3 linked regions of the Homo sapiens genome follow. The protein of the gene in region 3 purifies or fractionates together with the protein of the main gene of each other region. This does not show direct contact. Each region holds a gene or a part of one and is shown on either strand. Other genes may lie near its edges. The genes, in order: SFXN1, TOP2B and NCSTN.

Region 1 (3,600 bases), on a different chromosome or scaffold from region 3:
TTGGTGCCTTTCTGTATCCATCCCCATGGGGTTTCATAGAACTTTTACAGAAAATTAAGAACAGCTAAACACTTCACTGATCCTGAATTATGACACCCTTTGCCATATAGGGTCCTCTCTGACAACTGTAACCACAGATATCATCCCTTTTCTGAACATCCATGTGGCCTGAAAGCCTCAATCTAACCTCTGAATACGTACTAAGCTGAGATGGGAGCTGATAGCTCCTCCCTGCCAAACACTGTATTTTTTTTTTTTTAAGACGGAGTCTTGCTCTGTCGCCCAGGCTGGAGTGCAGTGGCGCGATCTCGGCTCACTGCAAGCTCCGCCTCCCGGGTTCAGGCCATTCTCCTGCCTCAGCCTCCCGAGTAGCTGGGACTACAGGCGCCCGCAACCACGCCCAGCTAATTTTTTGTATTTTTAGTAGAGACGGGGTTTCACCGGCTTAGCCAGGATGGTCTTGATCTCCTGACCTCGTGATCCGCCCGCCTCGGCCACCCAAAGTGCTGGGATTACAGGCGTGAGCCACCGCGCCTGGCCCAAACACTGTATTTTTGAAAGTGAGACACCTGCTCAGTGCTGAGGAGAGAAAGGATCTGCTTGAGGTCCCAGAACTTCTTGGTAGCCACCCCATTCATCCTCCCAAACAGTTCCCTCTCATCTTTTATATCAAGTCTGAAGCTGTAGGAGCTGCAAAGCCTCCTCATTTACCTGCATCCTCCCTGGGCACCTATAACAATGCCTAGAACACTGAAGCAGATCAGTAAAAGGGGGATGGACAAAGAAGGGAGAATCCAAAGGCACCCAAGTCAAAATCTAGAAGTCAACGCAGAAGAGGGACTAGGACTGTGAGAAATGTGCAGGGAAAAAGCTATGGGGGCGCAGAAAAGAGTTGCCTACGGAGCAGCTAAGTGCCCAGGCTCTGGAGTGAAGCAGAGCTAGGCTTTTTCGTTCAGGCAGTCAACAAATACTCATTGAGGGCCTTCTTGGTGCAGGCAATTGTTATGCGCAGGGGATAGATAGGCTGAGCAACACAAAATAGGCCCTGTTCACATGAGGAGAAGAAAACATGTAAACACCTTTAATTTCAACTAGTGACAAAAGACACTAAAGAGAAAAAACCCAGAGTTTGTGTTACAAAGGGTGTGTGGGGGGATGGGGGGTGCAATTTTAGACAGCATAGCCAAGGAAAAGCGTCTTTGAGAACGCAGTATTTACGACTGAGACTCAGATGGCCTTGGACTATGGATGGCCAGCTGTGTGACCTTGGGCACTCAACCTCTCAGAGCCCCAGTTTTCTCATGTGGATTATAGAGCCAACACCCAGTACCTCGCAGGGCCGGAAGAGTGTAAAAGTATATGGACCTAAGTCACCTGGCACGCACTTAGTAGACTGTTTATTGTCATTCTGGGCAGGTTAGAGACCTGTGACAGACGTGAAAGTTCAGGAGAAAAGCGTGAAAATGCAAGGTCCCTGTAGGACCAACTACTACTCCAAGAATCTACTTCCTTGCACATCACCTCCCTACTGGATTGCGAGTTCTAGGGCAGGAACCAGGTGGTCTCCCCTCCGACCCCCAGCACCAGGAGGCAAAGCCGAGAGCGCGGAGCGCTGGGCCAGGCACTGGGCCACCTGGCTGCCGCTGCCCCCGAGGCAGCCATCTTGGTGTCCCCGGAGCGAGTTCGCCACGCAGGCGCCGAAGACAGCGCGGCCAGGCGCGCGGGGACGCGGCGGAGGGCCCTTCCCACCGGGGACGAGGCCCACGGGATGCTGGGCCTCGGGATGCTGGAAGCGTGGTGTTGTCCGGCCGCAGGATGCCAGGGATCCCCAGGTGCAGGGACCCCCCCCCCGGCCCGAGGCATCCCCGGCCCGCAAAGGGGCTTCCGACCTCCGAGCCCGGGGTCTCCCCGCAGCCGGCCCGCGGGTGCACGGCCCGAGCCTGCCCAAGCCTGCGCGCCTCCGCCGGGCCCCCTGCGCGTTTCCCCACCCACCTGGCTGGGCCTGCCGCCCGCGACTCACCGCTTCCCCCGGGCTGCCGCCCGCGCTGCTCGCAGGTCCCGCTCAGTGCAGCCTCCGCCGCCACCGGAAACGCTTCTCCCGCCACGGCGTCCTCGCGCGTCCCCGGAGCGCGTCCTCGCGCGCGCCTGTGAGCGCGCGTCCGGGCCCGGGAGCTACGAGGCCCAGGGACCCGCCCTCCGGGTCCAGGCCCGGGTCCAGGCCCCGCCCCGCGCCCGCGACTCCGCTTCTGGCTTAGCGACCGCGCCCCGGGTCCAAGAGGAACTCCAAGCCCATCCTCACGGTGGTGTGGGGCTCTGCGCGGGCTGGGGCCACTATGTTCCATTTGGGTTTCCCTTAAGGGACTGCTTCTTTATCATTTCTTTATTCCCAGGGCCTTGGCGTAGCCAGCATCCGTTCACGCAGTCATTTACCCAATTAAAGTGTGGAGCTTGGCAAGACTGGCGCTACAAGGCGATTTTAGGACTTTAGTGCCACGACCTGATTTATGTCTTAAACAACAACAACAACAACGGCGCACTCTGTCTTCTTTATGGAGAACAGACTGCGTGGGAGGGGATGTGGAGGCAGAGAGGCTGTTTAGCCAGATGCTGTGGTTATCCAGGAGAGGAATCATGGTATTTTGGACCAGGTGGGTAACCTGGGCATATTTAAAGGGCAAATGAAATCTAATAAATGGTGAATTACATCATAAATTGCATAGGAAGATTCCATTTTTAAAGATGTAAATTCTCTCCCAAATGACCTATGACAATAAAAAAAAATTCGACAACACTAGTGTGCTTGGTGGAGTGTGTGTTATAACTGCACAAGCGGACTGCAAAATGTACATGAAAAAAATAAAGAGCCAGAAACAGCCAAACAAGCTTTTAAGAAAAGAGCAAGGCAGAGTGACTTGTCCTGCAGATACAAAACTTGTTATAAAACAATGGTAAATAACAAAGGTGGTGTGTTTGCTCCGGGGTCAACAAAGAGCCTCGCGGAGCCAAATAGAGTTGCCATCCATGTAGAAACCTGCACATGTAGAAACCTGCTGTGAGTTGGCATCACAGGTCAGGGGACAAAGGTTAGATATTCATTAAACAGTACTGGGATAGCCAAATCCCTACTTGTATAATACATGAAACTCAACTCCAGGTGGATTAATGATCCAAACGTGAAAAACAAAACTTCTAAAACTTAAGCAATATGTCACAGATATTTTGAGTGCTATTCCTCATCCTCCAAATTCCTATGAATGTTTAACTAGCTTTTTCTCTGTACCATACCCTGTGCCAAGTGCTGGGCTCAAAAAGATATATAAAAGATCGCCCCTTCTTGGCTGGGCACTGTGGCTCATGCCTATAATCTTAGCACTTTGGGAGGCCGGAGTGGGTGGATCACCTGAGCTAAGAAGTTTAAGCCTGGACAACATGGTAAAACCCCATCTCTACCAGAAATACAAAAAATTACCTGGGCATGGTGGCGTATGGTCCCAGCTACTCAGGAGGCTGAGGTAGCAGGATTGCTGGAGCCTGGGATGTGGAGGTTGCAGTCGGCTGAGATTGTGCCACTGCACTCCAACCTAGGTGATAGAGTGAGAC
Region 2 (3,729 bases), on a different chromosome or scaffold from region 3:
ACAATATGTTCTAAAATAAAAATGTTCCATTACTTTTCTAAAATGACGGGAATTTGTAGTTTACACATTATCATTTGTTAAATAAATAATAAGTTCCAAATAATTACCATGGGATGAGGATCCAGGCCATCTAGCATTCGTCTGACATTGTTCACAATTTCCCTAGCATCATAGTTGGGTAGTTTACAAGCCCATCCAGTACCAATGCCCTCAGCACCATTTATTAAAACCATGGGAATTATAGGAATATACCACTCAGGCTCTACACGTTGATTATCATCATAAAGGAACTTAAGGAGGTTGTCATCCACAGCAGGAAAAAGTAGCCTTGCTAAAGTGCTAATGAAAACAAAAAGAAGCAAATGAAAAAATGTCATGGCTTTGGGAAAGAAAACTTTATACATAATTAAAAACTTCACACTGCAAAAACAAATCTTTTGAAGAGAATGCATTTTTAATAATTTTGATTACATCCGCTTAATAATAAAATTTGCCTAACTGTATTATTCAAATGCATCTTTCTCTCAGTTACAAGCCCAGAATAAAATAGTCCTATTTTACTTATGTACTTACCTACCTGATTTAATATTGATAACTTTTAAAGAATTTCCTATTACTCTAAATAAAGTACATAACCCATCTTCAGCCTAAAGAGTAAAGTTGGTGAGAAAAACATCCTTAATTCACTAGGACTGATTTCACCAACAATTCATAAAAATTAAGGTCAACAGACTTCATTCTATTTGTGGTCAAATAATTTGGAACATTCACCTTCTAAGTAGAATAACCAGATAATCACATCTCTCCACAGCTATAATTCCATCGAACATTTAGTTAGTTGGTTCCAAATCAAATCAAACTTTATACCATTATATCAGCAAATATTTACCTTAACATTGTGAAAATATAACGAGGGCTTGCAGCATCTTTGCCACCATGAAGCCGAGTTCCAAACTGACCAATAGGCTGAAGCAAGTTAATGTTGTTACTTCCCACAAAGTTCTGAGCCAAATTCACAATAGTCATCATCAATGCTTGCTATACAACAGAAGAAGGCAGAACATAACATTAATATTCTAAATTTTCTATAATTACTCCCCAACTTGAATTAAAATCCAAGTGAAGAATAAAGGCTTTAGAATCTCACTAATCTGTATATTCTCTTAATTCTTTTACATTTCCAAAGACTTTACTAAAGGAAAAATACTATGTGTAATTATCATTCTTCAAGACAATAATTACAGTTCTCAATTGATTCCAATCTTAATGCTTACTTCTCCATGATGATAAGCCGACATCTCAGCAACAGAGCCAGCCAACTGGGCAACTTTTACTTCACGTTTATCATTCCTCTTGAAACAGGTAAATAAAACTTTCCGCTGGCCAGGTTTAAAGCCTATTTTTAAAAGAGCTCTTTTAAAATGTTACTTCAAGATATAGTTGTAACAATTCAGGGGAATAAAGCAAAGATACAATTTGCTTTTCAAGAACACCAGTAAAATTGTTACTTGAGATTCTGTAACAAAGTGAGTACATACTAACACGTTTGTTTTGTTTGTTTGTTTTTTCCTAGAAAGCCATCTGCAGGTATATACTAAGATGTTTTTATGCCATCTCCATCTACTCCAAAAGTGAACTGCCAATTGAAAGACAACATTCTGGCCTTAAAGAATCACCTAGTGGTACCAAACTCCTTTAACAGTAGTTTCCAAACACTCAAACAACCAAAACGCCATTTGTAGCTAACTAAATTGCCAGCATGCCATCAAGGAGCCTGAAATCTATTCTAAGTATCCCACATCAGGAAAACCCTTATAAAAAGCGATTTATTGTGGTAGTGAAGAATAAAGGCTTTAGAATCTCACTAATCTGTATATTCTTCTCAACTTGGCCATTTACCATGTGACTAAGCAAATAACTAGTAAGTCTATGTCCTCATCCAAGTAATAGAAATAATTACTTTCTTAATATAGTTTTCATAAGGATTGCATGAAACAATGTGAGCAAATCACTCTGCTCCCTTACCATTCTTCTTGCTCTAGGCCAAGCTTGTCCAACCCGTGGCCCGTGGGCTGCATGTGGCCCAACACAAATTTGTCAGTTTTCTTAAAACATCATGAGGTTTTTTGTTTGTTTGTTTTTGCGATTATTTTTGTTTTTTGGTTTTTTTGCAATTATTTTTGTTTTTTGTTTGTTTTTGTTTTAAGCTCATCAGCTATCGTTAGTGTTAGTGTATTTTTACATGTGGCCCAAGACAATTCTTCCTCTTCCAATGTGGCCCAGGGAAGCCAAAAGGTTAGACACCCTGGCTCTAGGCCAATAAGCACAGTAACAATCTTTTCAGTATATGCTATCACTGTAATCATACTGGACCCAGAGTATGGTAAAAACATGAGGATGATAAAATATGGCAACTTCTTTAAGAATTTTGTAATCTAATTCTAGAGGCAAAATGAACAAAGGTAAAATAAGAGGTACATAATAATTGGTATAGAAGTTTAGGTATCTAAGACCAATTTAGAGTAGAATTGCTAGGAAGGCTTCATAGAAGAAAGGCGATTTGTGGCTAGAACTTGAGGGATAGGTAGAAACATCTGCTATTACCAGAAAAGCCAAGCAATACAAAGATCAACAAACTTCATAAAGGTTATGAGAAAAAAAAAAGTTCTAGATAGAAGATCAAAATCTGCTTCAACTAACGAGAAATAGTTTCTAAATTTTTTTCAAATTAGAAATAGTTCCTAAATTTTTTTCAAGTTAAGTTAAAGCATTAGGCTTTGGGTAATACAGAATAAAAGCTTTTTAAAATTTAATCTCTGATAAATATTTTAGAAATTATCAAAGTTCCATTTTACTTTTTTAGAAAATCTGCAGACAACTTGGGCAAAAGCTTTAAGACTTTTAAAGTTAATTTTCCTGAAAAACTCGGAAAAGGTTTAAAAGTTTCAAATTAAGGAATATTAAAGATTTCAGCACTATGAAAACATAAAACAAAAGCAAAATCAAAAAGGCCTTAAATTCCTCTGAATAAGCTCTTCATATACAAGATTTAAAGTAAGAATTTTAATATGTATCATAAGGATGGCTTAAAGTACATGAAATTAAACTATAGTAAATAACATTAAAAAATGAGGTTTTTAAATATTACTCACCATCAACAAGAGATGGTATAGATCTTTCATTGTCTGAGTTTGAGAAGAGAATCAATTCCTTGTTGATGAAATCATTATAAGTCAAATGCTTTGTTGCAGTACCATATAAAAATTGCTAAGAGAAAAGTTATATAGCAATATTATCATTATTACTGCATGAATTCTAGTCTCTCTCTCCTTCTTTCCCCAGGTCACCACTCTTTAAGACTAACCTCTGGTAAGCCATGTAGCCTACGCTGTCTCCGGTCTTCCATAAAATTTGTTAACCATTCTTTTCTGTCATCAATCTTCTTCTTACTAAATGCCTGAAAGATTCCAGGTAACGATTTTGCACATTAAAAATAAAATAAATTTTATTACAAAATTAAAATGTATAAGTGGCCAATAACTAATTCTTAATTTCTGGAAAATTAGGTTATTTTACAATATTTTAATCAAAAACACATTTAAACTAAGGTCTTTCAATTAAAGAAGTTTATACAAGCACAGCATCATCTGGGGGAAAAATTAAAATTAACTAGCTTGAGCATTCAAAAGAGACTTATCATAGGGAACCAGGACTGGGAGGAAAGGAATA
Region 3 (3,262 bases):
AACCCCCAGGGCCTGTGAGACAGGGTAAGAGACAGGATTGGATTGGGTGTTGGCCAAAGGATGAACACCACAGCTGTTGTTGCTGCTGGGAAGAATCAGGAACTCAGTGACATTCCATTGGTTCCCTGGACTGGGTAGTTCTCTGATCATTTGTTGCCTAGCAGACTACCACTGCCCATTAAGGATAGGTGAGTGACTAGCTCCCTTCTTGCCTTGCTGCCCCATGGATCCAATTGTCAAGGCTGCTCTACCCAAGTCCTGGCTGTGTCACACTCGCTGCCCAACTTGTCCTCCACTTTCCTCATTGCTTGTTCAAAACCTTCCCTTCCCTCTAGGTCCACCTTTAGGCCTGCTTTTTTCCAGGTGGTCCTCTTTCTGCAATTCCAGCCTTCAGCATCATCCCTGCTCTGGACTCCTGTAGCATTTAAAGAATTGGTTATCTGTTTGGCATTCAGCACGCAGTTTTCTATTATTATTTGCTCCCTTCAATTCTGCACAATAAATAATAAGTGAAGCATCCACTGAGGATAAAGCAGAGTCTTGAAGACAGTAGAATTTACTTATAAATATGAAAAAAAAGGTCTCTTCTTTATGCCCCAATTTTCTAACTCTAAAAAGAATGGTGGAAGCTACAGGAAATTCAGAGAGCCTTGGTCCCAAAAGGCTTGAGGGATAAAGGTCTACTAGAGATAGGGTAGCTCCCCAAGCAGGGAACTTGAAGTATAGAGCATTTCAGGCCTAAAAGAGACCTCCTGCTTCCCATCCCCCAGCCTCCCATCAGTTAATCTCCCTCGTACCCCCCAGGTGGAGGATCTCCTGGCCACATTGGAGAAGAGTGGTGCTGGTGTCCCTGCTGTCATCCTCAGGAGGCCAAATCAGTCCCAGCCTCTCCCACCATCTTCCCTGCAGCGATTTCTTCGAGCTCGAAACATCTCTGGCGTTGTTCTGGCTGACCACTCTGGTGCCTTCCATAACAAGTAAGAATCACTTGGCCCTGCACCCTCTTCATTCTTGAAGAGAGTCTATTCTGCAGTCTGGGAGGAAGGTCACTGCCCTCCGCTTTCCCACACTACCCCCTCCAGAACTTCAGGTCCATCTGTATTCTTTGCTCAGTGGCGTTTTCACATCTGAACTGAAACCCTTATTTGTTTGACTGGATATTCATCTTAGAAACTCATCCTCACCCTTAGCCCTTTACTGTCAACAATCCTTGGTTATGGTTCCACTGCTCCCTAGCTCTCCAGGGTCCTGAGTTCCTCAGGGTTGCCAGCAGAGGGCATCATCTCAAACACAAGCATGGGAAGGATGGTGGGGGCCCTTTGGCTAGAAGACAGAAAGCAGTCCTTCTCTGGAACTCACCCAGAGGTGCCAGAAACAGTATTCATACTCTGTGAAATGTACCATGTTCTTGCCATGTGGTAGATGGCCATGGTTCAGTGCGAGGGTAAAAGTGCCTCCTATAGCTGATGGGGCTCCAGAGATACAAAGGGTAACTCTGGGTTACCCTTTAACTGCTCCTAACTTGAGGCCTTGGATAACAGGGGACTTCTTACTCAGGCTGGATTGCCAAGCTTCCCGAGGGCCAAATGAGTTTCGTAGTGAAAATGCTTGAGCTCTATTTCTGACCCCAGCCAAGTAGCACCTTCTCATTCATTTAGGGGAGTGACCGTCCTAGCACTTAGGGTCAGCTGTCTTCTCTAAAGCTATCCTTGTACCACTTTGGGGCAAGTGAAGATTCATCATTTGAACACATTTTGGATTTGATTATGTAGCTGACTTGACTTTGTGTGGGACAGGGATTTACTGATGGTAAAGACTGTGGAGCTCAGCCTCTCTTTTAAGATCTATCTCCTTGGGGCTCCATAAGGATCATCATGGTGATTTTATCAGTGTATTCTTATATATCAGTGAGCAGACCTGATCCTAAGACCTGCTAATCACCTCCTGCTCCCAGCTACCCTAAATATAAATGTTCATTGGAACAGTTATACAACTGATCTCATGATACATGGCAGAGTTCTCTGAAAATCATCTTAGCCATCCCCCATATCTCCAGCCCAAATGATGTAGAAGAGTCTCTCCTTTGTTTAAAGATCTGAGCTCATTCAGCTTTTCTACCTTGTCTGTCAGGAAAGTCTTTAATTTTCACTAACCACCTCACCCTCACTCCTACCTCCCTGTTCTCCACACCTTCTGCAATATGGGATCCTGATTGTCTCTCACCCCTTTCTTCTGATGCTGAAAATGAGATACTGAGTCCCTGCATAAGGAGCATTTGAGGGAGGAAAGGGGCAGAGCCCTGGCTAAATGTAGCCAAGGCTCATGCCGGCTTTCCTGGCAGATATTACCAGAGTATTTACGACACTGCTGAGAACATTAATGTGAGCTATCCCGAATGGCTGAGCCCTGAAGAGGACCTGAACTTTGTAACAGACACTGCCAAGGTAGCACTGAGCCAGGCTGGGTGGGAGCCTGGGGCACACAGTGAAGATGCTAGCATTTGAGGATAGGAGAGGTGGGCCATTCAGCCCCCTCCTCACCTACCACAGGCCCTGGCAGATGTGGCCACGGTGCTGGGACGTGCTCTGTATGAGCTTGCAGGAGGAACCAACTTCAGCGACACAGTTCAGGCTGATCCCCAAACGGTAAGCAGATGGGCCCTAGCTCCTTCTTTCTATTTACACAGCAAGCTGTCCCTATCCTCCCTTGCCCTAGTGTCCCAAACCTTGGAATTCCACATGACTGTTGATGCCGGTGAGAATGCCTCATGCCCCAGAGAGCTCTTGGGTGGGCCTCATCTGCATCTTATGAGCCAGCTACTGTCTCCCAACTCCAGTCTATCTGGCCAGTCTGGTTCCTGCCCCATGACTGGGTCTCCACTGATAATTCTTTCCCTGGGCTCCCTTCAAGTCACAGGGTTTTCTCTCTTTACTGTTCCAATCCTAGGTTACCCGCCTGCTCTATGGGTTCCTGATTAAAGCCAACAACTCATGGTTCCAGTCTATCCTCAGGCAGGACCTAAGGTCCTACTTGGGTAAGCATCTGGTGTGGGAATGGGACCCTTAGCTGAGGAAAGGGATAGAGAAAAAGTCTTTTGGTTTAACCTTTATTATTTTTTTTCTTTTTCCTCTCTGTTTTTCTTACCCCCTGTTTTCCTTTCTTTCTTCTCATATTTGATGGATCCTTTTCCATTGCCCTTCTTTCTGGCTGCTGCCAATCTTGGGCTTTTCCTATTTCACCCACCATCCACCCACCAAATCTT

Evidence for each region.
Region 1: the proteins of NCSTN (region 3) and SFXN1 purify together in Homo sapiens (affinity purification with mass spectrometry; one large-scale study listed by BioGRID and IntAct). This does not show direct contact.
Region 2: the proteins of NCSTN (region 3) and TOP2B fractionate together in Homo sapiens (co-fractionation; one large-scale study listed by BioGRID). This does not show direct contact.

The regions. Positions count from the first base shown.
Region 1 is NC_000005.10:175,477,060-175,480,659, reverse strand, and holds the start of SFXN1 (sideroflexin-1), read right to left. Parts: upstream 2,101-3,600; 5' UTR 2,021-2,100; exon of another isoform or gene 1,993-2,020; intron 1-1,992. UniProt on the Homo sapiens protein: Amino acid transporter importing serine, an essential substrate of the mitochondrial branch of the one-carbon pathway, into mitochondria.
Region 2 is NC_000003.12:25,623,408-25,627,136, forward strand, and holds part of TOP2B (DNA topoisomerase 2-beta), read right to left. Parts: intron 3,458-3,729; coding exon 3,365-3,457; intron 3,268-3,364; coding exon 3,153-3,267; intron 1,397-3,152; coding exon 1,275-1,396; intron 1,039-1,274; coding exon 890-1,038; intron 340-889; coding exon 108-339; intron 1-107. UniProt on the Homo sapiens protein: Key decatenating enzyme that alters DNA topology by binding to two double-stranded DNA molecules, generating a double-stranded break in one of the strands, passing the intact strand through the broken strand, and religating the broken strand.
Region 3 is NC_000001.11:160,353,314-160,356,575, forward strand, and holds part of NCSTN (nicastrin isoform 1 precursor), read left to right. Parts: intron 1-9; coding exon of another isoform or gene 10-18; exon of another isoform or gene 19-781; intron 782-804; coding exon 805-977; intron 978-2,341; coding exon 2,342-2,444; intron 2,445-2,549; coding exon 2,550-2,645; intron 2,646-2,946; coding exon 2,947-3,034; intron 3,035-3,262. UniProt on the Homo sapiens protein: Essential subunit of the gamma-secretase complex, an endoprotease complex that catalyzes the intramembrane cleavage of integral membrane proteins such as Notch receptors and APP (amyloid-beta precursor protein).